Linked DNA regions of Homo sapiens. The protein of the gene in region 2 binds, or shares a complex with, the protein of the main gene of each other region. Each region holds a gene or a part of one and is shown on either strand. Other genes may lie near its edges. The genes, in order: HDAC3, CORO2A and TBL1XR1.

What was found.
Region 1: CORO2A (region 2) and HDAC3 share a complex: the UniProt entries of both Homo sapiens proteins name them as parts of the N-Cor repressor complex.
Region 3: CORO2A (region 2) and TBL1XR1 share a complex: the UniProt entries of both Homo sapiens proteins name them as parts of the N-Cor repressor complex.

The regions. Positions count from the first base shown.
Region 1 is NC_000005.10:141,626,794-141,633,903, forward strand, and holds part of HDAC3 (histone deacetylase 3), read right to left. Parts: intron 3,333-7,110; coding exon 3,251-3,332; intron 3,124-3,250; coding exon 3,067-3,123; intron 2,947-3,066; coding exon 2,891-2,946; intron 2,514-2,890; coding exon 2,380-2,513; intron 1,847-2,379; coding exon 1,766-1,846; intron 1,420-1,765; exon of another isoform or gene 1,395-1,419; coding exon 1,321-1,394; intron 1,165-1,320; coding exon 1,100-1,164; intron 1-1,099. UniProt on the Homo sapiens protein: Histone deacetylase that catalyzes the deacetylation of lysine residues on the N-terminal part of the core histones (H2A, H2B, H3 and H4), and some other non-histone substrates.
Region 2 is NC_000009.12:98,120,365-98,126,637, forward strand, and holds the end of CORO2A (coronin-2A), read right to left. Parts: coding exon 6,185-6,273; intron 4,542-6,184; coding exon 4,410-4,541; 3' UTR 611-4,409; downstream 1-610.
Region 3 is NC_000003.12:177,194,451-177,202,010, reverse strand, and holds the start of TBL1XR1 (F-box-like/WD repeat-containing protein TBL1XR1), read left to right. Parts: upstream 1-4,528; 5' UTR 4,529-4,890; intron 4,891-5,532; exon of another isoform or gene 5,533-5,671; intron 5,672-7,560. UniProt on the Homo sapiens protein: F-box-like protein involved in the recruitment of the ubiquitin/19S proteasome complex to nuclear receptor-regulated transcription units. Plays an essential role in transcription activation mediated by nuclear receptors.

The DNA.
Region 1 (7,110 bases), on a different chromosome or scaffold from region 2:
ATATATACACACACACACACACACACCTCTCAGATCATCTACTTCTCTCCATTGCCACCCCCTCCACCTTAGTCTGGGCACCTAACCAACACCATGGCTTCCTAACTGGTCTTTCTACTTCCATCTCCATCCCCCCTACCCAAACCTTTCTCTATTCAGCAGTCAGAATTGTCACTTTCAAACACAAATTGGATCATGTCACTTTCCTGCTTAAAATCCTTCAATGGTTTCCCATCATCTTTGGAATATAATTCAAACTCCTTACCAGGGTTTAAAGGCTCTGCACAATCTCACCATGGCCAGCTTCTCGGACCTCACCTCAACAGACTGAAGTCCAGTGGCACAATCATAGTTCACTGTAACCTCAAACTCCTAGGCTCAAGTGATCCTCCTGCCTCAGCTTCCTGAGTAGCTAGGACTATAGGCATGCACCATCATGCCCAGCTGATTTTGTTTTTTATTTTCTGTAGAGATGGCTCTCACTATGTTGCCCAGGCTGGCCTCAAACTCCTAGCCTCAGGCGATTCTCCCACCTTGGCCTCTGGAAGTGTTGGGATTATAGGTGTGTGCCACTGGGCCCAGCCCTCAGAGCCTTTTGTGGGCCTTTGTCCATGCTTGGGTCAGGCTTCTCTCTGCTCCTCTTATGACTCACTCCTTCTTAGTCTCCAGGTCTCAACTCAAATTTTACTTCCTCAGAAAAACTTTCCGAAACCATGCTATCTCAAGTAGGTCCCCCATTGTATCCTGTGTCTCAGCTTTCTTTTTTTCTTTCACAGAATTTATAAGAATCTATTTATTTCATTTGATTATTTATTTTTTGTCTGTTTCCTAAACTGTAAACTCCATGGGAGACTCCTTATTCCATCCCCATGATGTGGTATGATGCCTGGAACATAACAGGTGCTTAATAAAAATATATCGTGAATGAATGACCATCTAGGGAACCCTGTTCAAGATGACATTTCTAGTTCAAGTACAATTTGTAGCTATTTTTGATTTCCAAGAAGAGGTGAGGCCCATTCCCCAACTACCCCCACCCACGTACTGAAGTCCAAGGCCACTTAAAAACCTTGGGGAGAAGAAGGAGAGCAAGTCTCACCCATGCCCTCGGATGCTGAGGTTAAAGCAGCCCAATCGATCACAGCCCAGAGAGTCAGCTCCACACTGCAAAAAGCAAAACCCCAGGAAAGTGCAGTGATCAGAACTGATCAGAACATCACAGATACCCCTTCCACCACCAACCTAAAGAACCTCCTCTTCCCTTGCTCTCTTTCCCCAAGCCCAGGCAGAACACTCCTGAGGAGGAACTGACAGTATTACCTGGAGCACAATGCACGTGGGTTGGTAGAAGTCCACTACCTGGTTGATAACCGGCTGGAAAAGGTGCTTGTAACCTGGGAGAGGGCCAAAGATGGGCACCTGGCACCCCAAGGGGATGGGGAGACAGGGAACAAAAGGAAAAAGGGGGTTGAGCGAGCATGTAGCCCAGGAAAGGGGCCACCCAAAAGAATCAAATCACTGGTCTGAAACTTCTGGAAGGGATCCCAGACTGCTATGAGTGACTGATGAAAGCCAATGACTTTTCCCAGAAAAATGCACATACACATGATATGTTGCATACAATTTCCAGAGATTCATGGTCCCTCTGAAGGCCATTCATCCTTAAGGACAACTGGCCCAACAGCAGACAATACCAGGCAGAAGAGGTTATTTCAAGGAGAAAAAGAAGGGGCCTAGGGAACAGAGGGAAGACTTCGGTACTTACTCTGGTCATCAATGCCATCCCGCAGGGGCACGTTCAGACAGTAGTAGCGGCCACTCTCTGCCCCGACTTCATACATGTCACCTGTAGGGAAGTGGGTGGTGGTAGCCACACATGGGAAGCACCCACAACCCAGCTGTTTCAGCCCCAATCTGCACTCTGGGAGCCTCTCATTCCATCTATGTAGCTTCACCATAAACTCCCTAGAGCCACTAAATCTCTTGCAGCTTGCATTCATTGGGCAAATAGTTTTGGGGGATCCACTCTGAGCCAACTGTGTACTAGGCAGTAGGGATGCAGCAACGAATGGAACTAATGAAATTTACGATATCCCACCACGCTTATATTCTTAGGGAATAGCCATGAGGAGGAGGGAGGCAGTAAACAAAACAAAACAAAAAACCACAATAAACACAAATAGCAGTGAGTGTTCTGAGGGAAACAATGAGGCTGATGTAACAGAGGAATGGGGAAGGAGGTGATTATGATAACTGGAGTGGTAAGGAAAGGCTTCTCTGAGGAGGGGACACCTGAGATGAGACTAGAAGGCTGAGAAGGAGGCACTCATAGTAAAGAGCTGAAGGGTGCAAAGGGGAAAGTAATCCCTATTCCCATACCTGTGCCAGGGAAGAAGTAATTTCCGTATTTGTGGAAGGACACCGTCATGACCCGGTCAGTGAGGTAGAAAGCTTCTTGAACCCCGTCACCATGGTGGATGTCAATGTCAATGTAGAGCACCCGAGGGTGGTACCTAGAGGGAAGCCAAAGCCAGGGTCTGAGCTAGAAGTGAACCCCCCAACCCACTCCTCTCAAACACCGGGTCTCGAATTGTGAAGAGTCTGCTTCTGCCCTGGTCACCTGAAACTTAATGTCACCAGTTCCCTAAAGGCAACTGGGGGCTCCAGCCTAGAGGCTAGAGGCAGGGACAGGAGAGGGATATGCAGAGAAGGCTGAAATGTGAGCAGGCAGTAGGGAATCTGCAGCAGTGGAAGAGGCAGCCTGAATAAAGCATCAAGAACTTGGGAGAAGCTAATCAGGGAGGAGGGAGGTCAAGGTCAGGGTTGAGACTGAGAGACCTCCTCAGCCAAGAATCCCGTAACTGCCCCCATCTCCTCCTGGGCTACTTACTTGAGCAGCTCCAGGATGCCAATCACAATGTCGTTGACATAGCAGAAGCCAGAGGCCTATGGCAAGACAGTGGTCTCATAAAGAGAAGAGCAATTCCCCTCCCAGCTGCCCCCCACCATCATCCTAAACACCTACCCTAGGATGGCCACTGTCTTTCCCATCACCTCCTCACTCACCTCAAACTTCTTGGCATGGTGCAGACCACCAGCCCAGTTAATGGCAATATCACAGATCTGAAAGACAAACACCTAAGTCACAGTCCTTCCTGCCCACCCCTCAAGCTGGGAGCCCAGGATCAGGGTTAAATCCCGAGTCCAGGGATCCAGAGGAAAGGAAGAACAGGACTCGGGACTATGTCACCTTGTTGTTCAGCTGGGTTGCTCCTTGCAGAGATGCGCCTGTGTAACGCGAGCAGAACTCAAAGAGCCCGGGAAACACTGGGCTGCAGGGAAGAGGAACAAGTTGGAACCCTCCTGCCTCTGTCTGGGCCCTTCCCATATCTCCCTCCCCATCCTAGATTCCTCCAATCTCCATTTTTCAAGAACCTTCTCTCCCTCTCCTACACACGTGGGCTATCTGCAAATTTATTCAACAAATATTTTGGACCAAACCATGTACCAAGCCCTGTGCAAGGCACTGGATGGGAAGTAAAGAAGCACTTAACTGTCAGGGAGTTTGTATCCTAGCTGCGGAAAGAAGCAAGCAGCTTCCAGGTACTCAAGTACAATGTAAAAAGGAAATCAGTTGAAAGAAAACATGAGCTCTGTTTTTCTTAGTCTTCTCAGTGTAACAAATTTTAGCATAATGTTCAATAATATTTTTCAGTCACATATTTTAAAGAAAGAACTGTATACCTACATATGTGAAACAGTGATGAGATAACCCACGAAAAGCCTGTAGCACAGTATACAGTATCCGCTCAGCCTTTAATAAATGTCAGCTATAATTATTACCATTGTTATTCTTTATAAAAAGTAAAGGCTTGAAGCCAGACACAAAAGCCTACTTACTGTATGACTCCATTTATGTAACATTCTGGAAAAGGTAAAATACAAGGACAGACATCTTATCAGTAGTTGGCTGGATCTAGGTTGCAGAGAAGTTATTAACTACAAAAGGGTGAGTGACCTTTGTTGGGTAGTGGAAATTTCCTGTACCTTGATACCTTTTTTTTTTTTTTTTTTGTAGAGACAGGGTCTCACTATGTTGCCCAAGCTGGTCTCAAACTCCTGGGCCTAAGTGATCCTCCCGCCTTGGCCTCCCAAATTGTTGGGACTACAGGTGTGAGCCATCGGCGCTGGCCCTATACCTTGATATATTCTATCAAACCTCTCAGAACTCTTACACCTAAAAAAGGTTAATTTTACTGTATGCAAGTTATACCTATATAAACCTGACTTTTTAAAAAGGAAAGGCTTAGGCAATCCCTAGTTTTAGGTCTCAAAAAAAAAAAATAGTGCAGCTGATACATTTGACCATGTGAAAAACAGAACTGTAGGGGTTTTTTGTTTGTTTGTTTTTTGAGATGGGGTCTTGCTCTGTCGCCCAGGCTGGGGTGCAATGGTGCGATCTCGGCTCACTGCAGCCTCCGCCTCCCGGGTTCAAGCAAGAATTGTAGGGTTTTATAGTTTCTCAAAAGGCTTGGAAAGAATTAGTGATTAATACCAGAAAACTAAGCAAATGAAAAAATAATGCAATTGTCAGCTCCAGGAAAAACAAAAAGCTTTAGAAGAAAATAGATTAAATCACACTACACTATTTGGCTTGATAGTAAATGAATCTTTCAGAGTTATAATAATGTAAACACAGAATACTGATTTATTTTTAAATTACTATGAAGCTGAAAGGGGAAAGGAAGCCAATGTGATGGTGTAAGAAGACTAAATGCTCATATCCCATACTAAAAGCTTAACAGATAATGCCTAAAATTGACAGACGAAGAAATAGCAATGAGAGACAATACAGGAGGGGAGTATGATTACAAGCACCGATTCTGGAGCTAGACTACCTAGGTTCTTTAACACCTACTAATGATAGTGAGGTTGTACAAACTGTTTAACCTTTCTGTGCTTAAGTGTCCTCATCGGTAAAAGGAAACAATAATAGACCCTGCTTCATAGGGGTTGTTGAGATTAAATAAGCTAATGGCTGTAAAGCACTTAGAACAGTACCTAGTATATAACAGGTATTACCTAAGGATTACAGATTAGTAATAACAGTCAATTAATATTATTATTTAGAAATCCAAAGGTAAATACCAGAAGACATAGGGGAAAGGAGCTGAAAGTGGCTGTCACTGGGCAGAGGGATTTATGGGTGAAAAGGAGAGGTCTGGAATTTTTTTTTTTTTTTTTTTTTAAGACAGAGTCTCACTCTGTTGCCCAGGCTGGAGTGCAGTGGTGCAATCTCAGGTCACTGCAACCTCCAACTCCCGGGTTCAAGCAATTCTCCTGCCTCAGCCTCCTGGAGTAGCTGGGACTACAGGCACGTGCCACCACACATGACTAATTTTTGTATTTTTAGTAGAGATGGGGTTTCACCATGTTGGCCAGGCTGGTCTTGAACTCCTGACCTTAGGTGGTCCACCCGCCTCGGCCTCCGAAAGTGCTGGGATTACAGGCGTGAGCCACTGCGCCCGGCTTGGGACTACTTTTTTATTTTTTTCATTTAAAGGCCTATAGTACAATTTGGCTACTTATGTTAGAATACTTTGAAACCAATCAGAAATTCATTAAACAGAAGAAAAATTCCTGATTCTCATCGGAAATACAGATAAGCACAACTGTAACTTGTTTGACAGGAAGACTGATGCAGCATAAATAGCCCAGAGATAGTATTCTAATTAGCATTCCCTAATCGCACAAAGAGCATCTACGGGACCCCAGTGTGGCGTAAGGGCTGACCCTGTATTCACAGAGCTAGAAAGTGAGCTCAGAAATAACAGCAGGAATACTAACAAAAAAACAAGAAACCTCCCCAAACAGCATGTGACTGAACACCAAATGAGCAGTGCAGTGTGTGCAAGACAGAGCTCTATGGGCTGGTGTGGTCAAGAAAGGTTTCATGGAGATGGTGTGAAGGCTGAGAAGGCCTTGAAGAGGTTGAATAGAGAACTAAGGGCATTCCAGGAAGGCATCCTGTGCAGCTGAGGTGTAGGGATAAAGTTGGAAAGGTGCCAATGCCAGCCTAATGAGTTGGCCTCTATCCTACAGCCCTGGCTGCTTCTGTCATTAAGATCTTTCAGGAAAACAGATTAGTGGTTTAAAAACCCGGGATCTGGATCATGCCCCCTCCAATGACCAGTTATGTGACTACGGCTAAGTTACCTAGATATTCCCAAACCTCAATTTACTTATATATAACATCAGAAAAAGGTCTATTATAATACATCTAAGGATTGGTATGAGAATTAAGTGGATTTACCAGCAACCCTTGGCATAATACCTAGCAGAGTAAGCACTCAGTAAATGGTAGCTATCATAAGAAATTCTACAGGATCAACAACCTGGTTTCTTCAAGAAATAAATTCAAGGGGGTGACAGAAAAGCTACAAATTAAAAGTCTTAAGAGACATATCAACCAAATGCACTGTATAGACCTTGTTTAGATCTGGATTTAAATTAGCTACAAAATAATTATGAGACAACTGCAGAAATTTGAATATTGATCCCATATTTGATGACATTAAGGAATCACTGTTAACTTTTTAGGTTTGATAATGATACTATGTTTTTTTAAAAGAGTATCATTTAGAGATACATAATAAAATATTTATGGATAAAAGGATATAACATCTAGGATCTGCTTTAAAACAATCTAACATGAGGGAGTATAGATGAAGTAAGAGTGGCCACTTGCTCAGCTGGGTGCGATGGCTCACGTCTGTAATCCCAGCACTTTTGGAGGCTGAGGCTGGTGGATCACCTGAGGTCAGGAGTTCAAAACCAGCCTGACCAACATAGTGAAACCCCATCTCTACTAAACATACAAAAATTAGCCAGGCATGGTGGCAGGCGCCTGTAATCCCAGCTACTCGGGAGTCTGAGGCATGAGAATCGCTTGAACCCAGGAGGCAGAGGTTGCAGTGAGCCAAGACTGCACCACTGCACTCCAGCCTGGGCTACAGAGTGAGACTCTGTCTCAAAAAAAAAAAAAAAAAAAAAAAGAGTGGCCATTTGCTCATAAGCGTTGAAGCTAGGTGATGGACGTATGGGAGGTCA
Region 2 (6,273 bases):
TCGCTCTGTTGCCCAGGCTGGAGTGCAATAGTGCGATCATAGCTCACTGCAGCCTCTAACTCCTGGGCTCAAGTGATCTTCCCACCTCATCTCTGGAGTAGCTGGGACTACAGGAGCACCATTTAGTTTGGTTTTGATGTAAGTGACTCTGTTTTGGTACTGACAACTTTCACACACACACCACCACCCCAAATTCCAGTTGCCCCCCCAGGCTCAAGTCTAGACTTCCACTTATAAAGCCCTCAGCTCTTTCTTAAGATCCTTGGTCTCCGCCCTGCCTATGCTCCACCCTGTGCTTTTTCAAGACTGGGGGACGTGCAGTTTACCCTGCTTGGAACATTCTTCTTCCCAAATGCCCTTTGCCCTGAGTATTCCAACTTACTCTGCAGGTTTCTACCTTACTATCTTTTCCTCCAGGAAGCCTTCCCTCCTTCTCCTTCCAGAACAGCCTATGCTTTCCCTATCCTGGCCCTCCCCATTCCCGCAGCCATGACTGAAAACTGGAGAGGGCAAAGACTGTCTGTTCTGCCTGTTTTCCAGCTTGGTGTCTGACTCCAAGAGTAGATAGTTAATTGGTATTTGTGGAACAAATCAAGAAAAGGAAAGCTCCTTGTAGTAAAATGGCCAGATGTTTATTATTTTGTTACATTATTTCCATTGCATATTCCACATCTATTTATTTTCACTTTTATTTATTATCATTATTTTTCACAAAGGTACAAGGAATTTCAGAAACAACATTAAAACAATCATTCAAACTGTTTCAGGCACGGTTTCAATTAAAAGCATAGATTTGATTTCTGACTTCCTGTTTCCTTCTATGATACAATCTCAAGTTTTGTTTCAGGAAGCACAATTATTGTAGCGTTAAGGTGGATACCTGCCAAAGCTCATCTCCTAGTGCTGTCCTCATTCTCAGAAAGTTCCTGAGTCAACAGAAAGGGGACGCCCAGGGTATGGAATAAGGAGATGAGAGCATGCTCTGCCAACTGGCTGGGACCTGAATGTGCTAGGCAAGTTCCACTACATCAGCTCAAGAACATAAACAAAAATGTAATTTAAAAAACAGATGGTTTAAAAAAATATCTGATAAAAATTACCTATCCCTCTCCCTTGCTGTGAAATAATTTAAATAATTTATTCTAGATGTAAAAATAATAATACAAAAAAGTTTGTTCAAAGACACCTGTGTCCTGTTTGTTAAGTGTGCAGTCTGGGTCCCTTGGGGTGGAGGGAGCTGGCCAAGGAATGGCATTGTGCAGAGGCATACCGGGAAGCTCTCTGGATGCAACCCCACCTCTACCGCTTGGCAGTCAATGACCTTGGCATGATGTTTCTTCACTTCTCTGAGGCTAGGTCTTTGATTCTGAACATGGGGACTGTAATGCCTGCCTGACCTGTGTTAGAACAGCATGTGTCACTGAGTGGAGGTGGGAGGAATTTGTAAACTGTGAAGTGCTAGCCACACAGGTGGGAAAGGTAAGCCTATCCTGTAGAGCTCTGCTGCCCTGACAATGCCTGGGATTTGGCCTTCTTTTCTGGAGCACACTAAGGCAATCTTGGCTAGTGCATCAGACGGGAGTGAGCCCCAGTGACTGAGTAAATGGAGAATAAGACAAGGAACACGAGCATCCGGCCTGTGCAGACATACAAGCAGAATAAACCACAGCTGGGTAAGGGGCAAACAGGGGCACTGAACCCCCATCGTGCTGCAGCTGCGGTTCCCAGAGATGTTGAGGGAGGGCTTGGGGCAACACTTCTGGACTTTTAAGGAGCCACCAGGCAGGACTTAAGAGATCTGGGTTGAGTCCCAGCTCCTGTCTGGAGCTTGCTGTCCTCTTCATCTTTATTGCAAATAGGTACACATGCAGTCTTCCATCTTCACTGTACTGCAGATCACCTGTGGAGCTTATATGACCATACAGGCCCTACTCTGGAGATTCAGCTTCAGTTGGTCTGGAATGTGGCATGGGCATCTGTATTTCCTGCACGCTCCCAAGGGAATTCTAATGTACACAGCTTGGGTTGAAACCTACCAGACTAGGTGGCCTCCTGCAGTCCCCACCTCAGCTCCAGAATCTAATCGCCCTGTGCAATGGAGATCATCTGCCCCTCCTTGGTAAGGAGGGACCAATTTCACTTCTAATCATTCCCAGTCTCTTGGTGGACTATTGTATTGACCACTGAACTTTAGAGTAGGGCTCGGAACACAGATTCACTAAGGAGGGACAAAGAAAAGCTTTCAGGCTAAAAGGGAACTTTGGGACCATCTGGTACTACTTCTTTACCTCGTATAGTCATTTCAGAAGACCTCCTGGTTAGGTGGCCAGAGGCTCTGCTGGCATGTCTCCAGTGATGGGGGCCCCCTACCTCCTGGGGGACTCTTCTGTTAACTAGGGCTGAAATCTGCCCACATCATCCTGCAGGAGGCAGGCTGTGTACCTGAGGGCCTTGGTGGTGGCAGTCAGCAGTCATGGGCACAGTTCTGAAGTCTGCGTCCCTCCATAAGGGACAGCATCTATCCATATCAGGCTGATTCTGGTTGGAAAGGTTGGTTTTGACCACCTGCCTGTGTTGTAGAATTGGGTTGAATGCCTCTGACCCCTTGCCAGTGTCCGTTAGTTTCTGTAGCAAACCCAGATCACCCCACAGGTAGTTTTCTCTTAGGTCAAGGTTTCAGGTGGCAGATCCTGCAGAGAGCAGCTTGTTCCAGGGTACCCCTGGTTCAGATGAAGAAACTGAGACCAGAGAGGGCAGGACTTGCAAGAGGTCACTGAGTAAGCTGGGGCACAGCTGAGGCCAGAAGCAACAGATTTCTACTCTTTGGGCTGAGAACTGCATCAGACCCAAAAGAGCAAAAAGACAGACCCAGAAAAGCAGGATCTCAGCCCAGCCCTGCCATGAAACAAATATCACTTGCCTCTCTCTAGGCCTTAGTTTCCCCAGCTGTAAAATGAGGAACTTGGGTCAAATCACTAGCTTTCAAACTTCTAAAAAAATTTTTTTTTCCTAGCAGAATTGTTTTTCATACTAGCCCAACATATAAAATAGAAGGGAGCTGTCTGGTTGGAATACAGTGTGGGGAAGGGAGACACAGCCTTCCTGCTTAGTCTTCCCCTATTCTCTCTCTCTTTTTTTTTTTTTTTTTGGAGATGGAGTCTCGCTCTGTCACCCAGGCTGCAGTGCAGTCCGCAATCGTGGCTCATAGCAACCTCCACCTCCCAGGTTCAAGCAATTCTCCTATCTCAGCCTCCCGAATAGCAGGGACTACAGACGCTCACCACCACGGCTGGCCAACTTTTTTTTTTTGAGACGGAGTCTCACTCTGTCACCCAGGCTGGAGTGAAGTGGCATGATCTTGGTTCACTGCAACCTCCGCCTCCCAGGCTCAAGCGATTCTCCTGCCTCAGCCTCCCAAATAGCTGGGATTACAGGCATGCACCACCATGCCTGGTTAATTTTTTATTTTTAGTGGAGACGGGGTTTCACCATGTTGGCCAGGCTGGTCTTGAACTCCTGACCTCAGAAGATCCGCCCAGCTTGGCCTCCCAAAGTTCTGGGATTATAGGCGTGAACCACCACGCCCTGCCTAATTTTTGTATTTTTAGTAGAGACGGGGTTTCACCATGTTGGCCAGGCTGGTTTCTTTCTTTTTTTTTTTTTTTTGAGACAGACTTTTGCTCTTATTGCCCAGGTTAGAGTGCAGTGGCACAATCTCAGCTCACTGCAACCCCCGCCTTCCGGTTTCAAGCAATTCTCCTGCCTCAGCCTCCCAAGTCGCTGGAATTACAGGCGCCTGCCACCACGCCCAGCTAATTTTTTTGTATTTTTAGTAGAGATGGGGTTTCACCATGTTGGTCAGGCTGGTCTCGAACTGCTGACCTCGTGATCCACCAGCCTCGGCCTCCCAACATGCTGGAATTACAGGCGTGAGCCACTGCGCCTGGTGAGACTGGTTTCAAACTCCCGACCTCAAGCAATCCGCCCACCTCAGCCTCCCAGAGTGCTGGGATTACAGGCATGAGCCACTGCGTCTGGCCCAGTCTTCCCCTATTCTCTGGACCACAGTTTGAAAATCACAGACAGGTCAACCTAGATCCTTCCAGCTCTAGTTTTCTACTGTGTTCTTTCCTCTTGAGAAGTTACAGCTCATCATGGGCCCTTAATAACAGAATTCAACAGAAGGCATCATCTGAAAACAAAGTCAATTCAGAAACTGTTGTTGCAAGAAGGCAAACAGAAAAACGGCACCATGTCCCACTGGAATCTCTTTCAGCGATGGAGAGTTTTGTTTTCTGGTAAAAAATATAGAAATAGTGGTTGTCCTTGAGGGGACTTGTGGTTTGGTTCTAAACCTCCCCATGGAGCCGAGTGGTGTCCCTGAGGGTGAGGAGGGCAGAGGTCTCTGCTCAGAGCTGCTCTGAGCCCATCCGCAAGTTTTTGATCTCCAGTTCCAACTGTTTGGCCTGGACCTCTCGCTGGGTCAACAGCTCCCGGAGCCTTCGGATCTCCTCCTGTTGCCGGTAGAACATCTGCAGCAACTGGGGAAGAAAGATCGGAAGGCAGGATCACCATGGTGTCAGGACACCAGCTGAAAGCTAAACCACTATCCCTCTTTGACTCAGAAAGGTGGAGGCGGTCACATTAACATGGCTGAGGCCTGATGGGGCTGTCACTGCATAGATCTTTTACAAACACCTTGTTTACTTCACCCAATAAATGAAATTCAAGAAGACTGGAATGTTTCAGATGTATTTTGCTTCCATAGATCCTCCATGAAATAGAGGAAAGGATGCCTGGCTCTGAAGTCTGGGGATTGGTGTTTTCGCCACCACTGAACTGTGTGACCTTGGGCAAGTTACTTACCCACTCTGAGCTTCCATTCCTTCCTCTGGAAAATGGGGTCAGAAAACTGCCCTCTGTGCAGAATGGGTGTTAGATATTGAGTGATGCCCTAAGGGCCTCGTTATCCCACTGGAACGTTGTGACACCCCTATAAGGGTGGCAGTGCTAGTGTCCCCACCGTACCACCGTGGAAACGGAAGCTTAGAGACATTCAGTCTCTGGGTCTAAGACCCTAAATTAGTACTCAGCAGAGCCAGGATCAGAATCCATCTGTGAGATGCCAGCCTCTGTGTTCTTAGCCACTACAGACTGACTTCCAGGGCTGTTGAGAGAATTCAATCACGTGCTGTATCAAAGTGCCTACCCCAGGATCTGCCACACAGTAGGCACTAAACAAATGTGGACTTTGAAAGCACAGAAAGTCCTATAATGTCAGAACTGGAAAGACTTTGATACCCACTAGGTCAAACCCTCTCCATTTTACAGATGGTTTCCCACCATTTTTTTTTTTTTTTTTTTTTTTTTTGAGACAGAGTCTCACTCTGTTGCCCAGGCTGGAGCGCAGTGGTGTGATCCTGGCTCACTGCAGCCTCTGCCTCCTGGGTTCAAGCAATTCTCCTGCCTCAGCCTCCAGAGTAGCTGGGACTACAGGCACGCACCACCATACCCAGCTAATTTTTGTATTTTTAGTAGAGACGGGGTTTCGCCATGTTGGCCAGGCTGGTCTCAAACTTCTGGCCTCAAGAGATCCACCCGCCTTGGCCTACCAAAGTGCTGGGATTACAGGTGTGAGCCACTGCACCTGGTCACCTGGTCCCCACCATCTTTTTTTTTTTTTTTTTTTAAGATGGAGTCTTGCTCTGTTGCCCAGGCTGGAGTGCAGTGGTGTGATCTTGGCTCACTGCAACCTCCACCTCCCAATTTCAAGCCATTCTCCTGCCTCAACCTCTCAAGTAGCTGGGACTACAGGTGTACGCCACCACACCCGGCTAATTTTTGTATTTTTAGTAGAGATGGGGTTTCACTATGTTGGCCATGCTGGTCTTGAACTCCTGACCTCATGATCTGCCCGCCTTGGCCTCCCAAAGTGCTGGGATTACAAGAGTGAGCCACTGTGCCCAGCCTCCCACCATCTTTATGTATGCCCATCATTTTGGCATAAGATGGAGCTCACTGCCTGTTTGTTGAATGAATTAACAAAATGAGTCAAGTGACTAGGCCAGGCCACACAGCTGGTTATTCTTCTCATGCCTCATTTTCTCCCTTCTTCTCAGCCTGGATCTGTTCCCCTCCACCCCAGCTGCCCCATGTGAAAGGCCCACCCCGTCCTCCTTCACACCTCATTCTCTGTCTTTGGTGGGGGGCATTCGAAAACGTCAAAGCCATTTGTCAGCCAGGTTTTCTTCTCCTCCAGCCTGTGTTCTGCTG
Region 3 (7,560 bases), on a different chromosome or scaffold from region 2:
TTTATTGTTGTAATGAAATTGGGTCATAGAAGCATGGAAAACTGTGACAAGGTTCACACTGATGAGGAAAGGTCACAAGCAACACGCTATGCACTGAAGGAGAAAAGCAGCTTGTGTACTGACATCTTGAGATGTGTGGTTGGCATGTGCCTCATCTCGGAAGAACCACAAAGAATTGCACAAGGTAAGTCAAAATGAAACGGAAACATCACAGAGTATCAGCAAGACGCCTGGGGGTAAACGCTACAGACGTAAAGCCACTGAATTCCAGGGTGAGTAAAGAATATAAAATGAGTTATAGCACTAGGAGAATATTTTTGGTATCAAATGTCTTTTTTATACAATTAAGTTTGTTTTGAATACTTTATGTAGATGAGCTAATGTAAACAATTTAAAACATCATGATGATTTAAAAATATATATAGTAATGAGACCCTGTAGTCCTGGGATTGAAGCAGTTTCAATTTAAAATGTTCCATGTCTTTAGCGATGAAAGTTGCAAATGTGTAGGCTATCTTGCCATGCCACACTCCTCTCGGAAAAATATTACTGAAATAAAACAAGTCAGGATTTGTTTTTTTTTTTTTTTTTTTTTTGAGATGTAATCTCACTCTGTCACCCGCCCAGGCTGGAGTGCAATGGCAAGATCTCGGCTCACTGCAACCTCCCCCTCTCGGTTTCAAGCCATTCTTCTGCCTCAGCCTCCTGAGTAGCTAGGATTACAGGCATGTGCCACCACGCTCAGCTAATTTTTGAATTTTTAGTAGAGACGGGGTTTCACCATGTTGGTCAGGCTGGTCTCGAACTCCCGACCTCGTGATCCGCCCGCCTCGGCCTCCCAAAGTGCTGGGATTACAGGTGTGAGCCACTGCACCCGGCAAAACAAGTCAGGATTTGTTTAGCCATTTTACAATATATAGTAACTTCTGATAACAGTTACTGGTATGAGGTTTCTCTTCATTGAGTAATTAGCTAGAAAATTCAAGAGAGAACTTTTTTTTTTTGAGACGGAGTCTCACTCTGTCGCCTAGGCTGGAGTGCAGTGGCACTATCTCGGCTCACTGCAACCTCCGCCTCCAGGGTTCAAGCGATTCTCCTGCCTCAGCCTCCCAAGTAGCTGCGATTACAGGCACCCGCCACCACGCCCGACTAATATTTTGTATTTTTAGTACAGACGAGGTTTCACCATGTTGGCCAGGCTGGTCTTGAACTCCCGACCTCAAGTGATCTGCCCACCTCAGCCTCCCAAAATGCTAGGATTACAGGCGTGAACCACCACACCCAGCGGAGAACTTAATGTGTTCCTTTGCTTTACAATTTCTTAGTAATACAGTAATATCTCCTTTCTAGAAACACATTAACATTTAATTCAAAGTGTAATGGGAGTGTTAGATTAGGACAAAGTACTGAATATTAGTAACAATAGTTCCTTCTTTGTCCTTTCCTCACCCAGTGAGTCTAATCATTGCTTGTATTTTGGTGCAGCCCTGATCCTTTATGCTGGATATGTTGGGACAGCTAGAGGGCGAGGCGACAATACATATGACCTTTGAGTGATGGTTTATTTCTCTGAGTATTTAACATTGAAGCCACACTGTTGTTTCAGATAGTTTCCAGAATATAAAAATCAAAGGGATCAAAATATGATCTGATTTAAAACCCCCTTTGCTGGAAGAATCAAGGCCTTTCCACATTTGGGTGCCCCTATTTTTGTTTGTTTGTTTAAAAACACTCCAGGCTGCCGGGCACAGTGGCTCACGCCTGTAATCCCAACACTTTGGGAGGCTGAGGCAGGCAGATGACTTGAGGTCGGGAGTTTGAGACGAGCCTGACCAACATGGAGAAACCCCATCTCTACTAAAAATACAAAATTAGCCAGGCGTGGTGGTGCATGCCTGTAATCCCAACTACTCGGGAGGCTGAGACAGGAGAATCGCTTGAACCTGGGAGGCAGAGGTTGCAGTGAGCCGACATTCCGCCATTGCACTCTAGCCTGGGCGACAAGAGCGAAACTCCACCTAAAAAAAAAAAATGTACTCCTGCTCTCTCCTCTCTCTTCAATTAGTATGATCCAACAGTGGTGAGTAAAGTACATTTTACTGCAACGGATTTGTAAGTCCCCAGCCTCGATGATCTTCATATTTAAATGCAGTCATTTACGCACAGAAATGTCTTGTAAACTACAGGGATATAAACAAATGCATGGATTATTATCATTGTGAGGAGGCTCAACTAACACTGAACAACTTTAGGAGGCAGCTTGGTGTAGGGTATAAGAACTTCAGGCTGGAAGACCTGATCCTATGAACCTGAAGGAGGGTGTCTCCTCCCTTGTGGAATAAGGGATAGAAGTCATTTAGGGGAAGGAGAAGGGGTGGGGTGGGCAGCTTTGAATATGACGCTTTAAGAATGGTATGGTTGAGAAGTCCTCACTCACTGAAAGTGGGGTTTGATTTTACAGTCACTGCTGTATGGAGAGGACCCGCCCGTGGTGGCACAATATGAAACTTAAAAAATAATCTAAGCCAATAGATATGTTTCATTGAGTGGCTCCACCGAGATAGTTTACTTACTGAAGACAGGGTATGTTTAGTGATATCTACGTCATTTATCAACTCAAAAAAAAAAAAAGGAAGATACTATATACTCTTTTCAATTCTGAAATAAAGTCTTCTGAAAGGTGTTAGTTCTGAGGTAAACAAGCCTCAGCTTTAGAATCCTATTGAAATGCAAAACTTGCTTTGTGCGGTTTCCCTGTACACTCTGCATAGTGTTTTGGAAACCTGCAGTTATCTAAATTCCCATCGGGTGACATTGTTTAATCCAACATTCCCACTTTCATACATGAAAATAGCTCTAAGGACACACCACTAATATGCTTTGAACTCTCTGGTGGTTGGAAGGGAGTTTCCAATCCCACTCCCTTTCCTCTGATGGTTTTCCTGCTCCCTGCCCCACTAGGTCATTCAGGAAAGGCCTCTGGCAGCTCCCCCAAGCAAGGGCTCAGGGGGGAAAGAGACATTGACCTTGGCCAAGAAAGCACCTGTCTAATTACTGAACTTATTAGGCCACCAGGAGTCCAGACTGGTGCAAGTTACGAGTAGTGTGTGTGTGTGTGTGTGTGTGTGTGTGTGTGTGTGTGTGTCGCAAAACTTCAGGTTTCTGATATTGAGAGGAAATGATGGTTGCTTTAAAGTGATCACTACATCTATTTTCAAATATTCTGATGAAAGTAGGAAAACAGAACCCTTCACCTTTAAGAAAGCTGCAAACATTATTTTGCTTTGAAGGCAGTAATAAGCGAAATAACAAAAAGGTTTCAAGTCGTATCTTAATGTAAAAGGGTGGCTGCTTCTCCAGTCCTGAGCTTATACAAAGCTCTAAAAAGCACCCTACCCCATCTTTCTGAAAGTCTTAGAAAGATTACCACCCCATTTGCTTTAAAACCTGTGAGGTGCCTCCCTTCTTTAAAAACAACCCTCCCTCAACCATACTGCCACATTATCACTCATCTAAGTTATACTTTATAAACCGCCTTGCTGTGCTTCACACATGCAAAAAGTACACAAAGTGGATAAACTTCTACTGTGGATGCCACTGTGCAGGTATATATTTAGTAAACATTTAGTTACATTATTTTATTTTTGTGAAATAAGAACTGATCGAGCAAACCTTTCAAACAGACCCACCAGATGATAAATACCACCATATGCTTGATTCACAGTACATTTGGGCATAAATACTTCAATTACAGCTTTGTGTTTAGTATCAAAAACCTTTTCTTGTGTGCGTGTTTTCTCTCCAGATCCCGTGCTCTGGATCACATTTTGAAAGTCGCTTATTACAGATAAAGCACCTTTCCAGGTACGCTTCGGAGAACCATATGTATTTACGCACACAAAGGTGTTCACAGAGATTTTCACAAACAAATGTCCATATGATGCCGCGCCGCACTCCCCCACATGCCCGCCGCGTGTGCGCCCAGCCCCCAACGCCGCCGGGCCGCCCCCCGGACACGCGGGAGCCCGCGGCGTCCTTGGGGAAACTTCGCCGGCGGCTCCACCCCGGCCACCGCGCGGGCCTCCCCGCCCCCACCCGTCTCGGGCCCAGCGGCCCACACCCGAGCACACCCAGGCCGGCCCGCGGCGGTGGGGGCGGGGCGGGCGGCCCGGGGCCCCGAGGCGCCTTCGAGTGCCCGCGGGGCTCGCCTGATTTTTAAAAGAATGCGCCGCACAGCCCAGCCCCCAGTGCCGCCAGAGCGGGCCGGGAAGGAGAGGAGCGCGGCCGCTGGAGCCCCCCCGCCGCGCCGCCGCCGCCTCCCGGCGTCCGCGGCGCCCCTCCCCCGCCGGCCCCTCCCCCGCGCGCCCGCCCGCCCGCTCGCCCGCCCGCCCGGCGCAGGCCGCTCGGGTTTGTTTTGCTGCGCGGCCGCCGCCGCCGCCGCCGCCGCGGGCCTCGCGAGCTCATTTGTGCCTGGCTGGTCCCCATTCCTCTCTCCCCAGTGTTGAGTGTCTGAGCCGTTGGCTGCTCCGAACCGTTTGGCTCTTTCCCTTAGTAACAGCTTTTACCTTCTGCCTCAATTCCTCTCCCCGCTCGCGCCCTTCCCCCGCGCGCCGCCTCCCCCCGCCGCCGGCCGCGTGCGCCCCCGCCCCTCCCCCCGCGGCGGGAGCACCTCCGCTCGCCACCTGGGGACCCGCGCCGCGCTCCCCGCCCCCGCCCGCCCGGCGCCCATCCCCCGCGCCCTCCGCTCGCTGGGGTTATAATTGCCTCTCACCCCCCGGAGGGGTTATTTTGGGGGTGGTTGGAGGCGGTGGCGGCGGCGGCGAGGAGGGGAATTTCCTTGTGCCTCCATTCCCGGGAGGGGGGAGCGGCGTTGGAGGCCACCGTTTCCAGGTAAGCGCTGGGGGCCGGACCCTGGAGTGGGGGCGGCCGGGGGCCTGGGCGGGGGGCGCGGGCCAGAGGCGGCCGGGGGCGCTGGGCCGCGGGGGGATGGGCGCGAGTGGAACATGCATTTTTCAACTTGGCCCTTGGGGGAACTGGGCTTGCGTGGGGGAAGGGAAGGCAGGGAGGGCACTTGGGGCGCCCCCATCCCCCCGTTTTCCTCTCTCAGGTTTCTTTGAAATGCTCACGTGCCTGCCCACCCCCCTACCCTTTCCCGGTCTCGGGGGATCCTCACCCTAATTATGTTGTCCCCGAAAATGTGCACCTCGGCCTTCTCCCCCTCTTCCTCCCTTCGTGCATTTACACCCCCTTTTTGTGCGTGTGTGTTTGGGGGGGGAGGCTTTCAGGAAAGGATTTGCAGCAAATTGAATCAAGGAGCCATCATGAGGCCGACTCCTTTATAGCCTATTTTTAGCAGAGGAGAAGGAGCTTTTCGGTGCATGCTATTTTGTGAAACCTCGGGCGGCAATGGAAATCTCCCCTCCCCGGGCGCGTCCCCGGCCCGGGCGCGGCGACCCCGGCCGGCGTGCTGGGGGCTGCGGGCGGCTGTTGGGGCCGCGCGTCCGGGGCGGGGGCGCCGGCCGGGGGAGGGGCGCGCGGCAGCCGGGCCTTGCTCCGGGACGTGTTTATTTGTAACTTAGTGCTTTTTATCGTCTTAAGGAGGTATTTGGTGGAGGCTCTTTGAAGTTGGGTTCAGGAGTGTAGAATTGGCAAAGTTATTGCCAGCTTCCTGGTAAGTTTTGGGTGGCACAGAGTCACGTTATTTTCTGACAGTGTAAAGGCCACGTTGTGAGGGTGGTTTCTCGGTAACTTCCTCTTTGCAACCGATTTAATTTTTTGAACAGAAGCAGACTTTTATTTAAGTGGAATATTAATCTTAAATGGCAGCTCGAGGGAAGCCATGCATGTGTTAACGTGTTCAGTATTTTTGGAAGTTCTTAATTTGCTGAAACAGGCATCACTTCGCAGTGGCAACCGGGATTAAATTTAGGTTGTGAAAATGGTGTATTTCATGTAAAATTTGGGTTGTGGCTTTTAAAAAATGCTCTCTTTGTTAGGTTATCTAAGTGTCTCTAAGATAATTTGGTGATTACAAATGAGAAATGTTGGAAACTAGTTAAAAATTAGGTGTTCTCAGTGTCTGGAGTTTACTTGAAATCTTGGACTGTGCAGGCACCAGGGGTGAAGAGTTTTAGTACCTATGTGATTTACAGTTGACTTAGGAAAGTTTACTATTCACTTTCTTGTTTTCCAAACAGGAACCGTATGCTGATCTAAACAAGCTTGTTAATAAAATGTGGGGGGTGAAAATGCCAGGTTATTTTTAGTTTGAATTTTAAGACTGAATGGTTGCTCTACCCCCCACCTCATATAATTAAGTGATCTTCCCCCTCCGTTTTTCCTAAAGGCTTCTTCACCAGTTTGGATAATAAGGCCCTCGTGGTGTGTTCATCTACTTACCTGAAATAACTTGGAATAAATAATTTCGATTACACGTTGAAGATACAATGAGTGACTGTTTGGGTTTTCCAGTGTGATTCATTTTCATTTTTGTTAAAATAAGACCCATGCTACATTGATGTATTTTAGTAATGCCGACTTCCTGGGATTGTATGTTCTCACCATTTTAATAGTTTATAGTCTGGGGAAGTAGGGCACCTTTGTCTCCCCGAAAACATGGTGTGGGTTGGGTGGTATCATGGGAGTTGATGGCAAGCTTCCCAAATAGTTGAGAGTTCTAGAAATAGTTAGCATTTACCTGTGGGGGAGGGGCTGCAGGAAGAAAGTATGCCTGAGAGCAGTTAGGCGTGTGATGTGTGATTAGGCTTCTTGCTCTTAAATCCAGGTTTTCTTGTTTGGAATATGATTTTTTTTTTCAACCCTATCCTGCACTGAGATGTATGTAATCGCAATCATTAAATTCATAAATAACTACTATTTTTTTTGACGTTTGAGTTGTTGGAATCCGACCTACAGGACAAAATACTAAACTGTATGGGGGACGAAAACTACGTGCCTGGGAAAAGTTTTTCTTATTGCTAAGGAACTTAATAAAGTGACATGTTAATGGCATAAAAATTGTTGCAAAGCTCACCGTCAGTTTATGACATTTTTCTTTTAACGTATACCAGCTTTGGGTATTAATGTGGGAGACACTGGTGGTAAATGGAGTGACCCCTTGCAGAGATGATATTTTTGCATTGGTTGCTTCAAAGAAGTGTTAAGCATTTTAATACGTATGTCTAAGAATCTTTTTGATATTTGTATTCTCGACACCTAATTAAAGGTTTTGCATGATTACCATGACACCAGTCTCCCGAAAGAATTAGAGGTAACTGCTTCCTGTGTTCTAGGAGCCTTTCAAGCTAACAGAAGGTAATATAAATATAAGGGGTACTGATAAAAGGAAATGTATTAATAGACCTTTTGAACATCAACTTGTTGATTAAATCTATCAGTGCAGTATATATACAACCTTGTCAGACGAGTAGCTGACAAAGGAATCTCCCTAGTACAACTTGTAGCAGTACTATTATAAAGAATTCCTGACTTGACACATTTTGATGAAGTTGGTTGAAATAATTTGTTGGGTTTGTTCAATTTTTGGTGTCATTTATATAA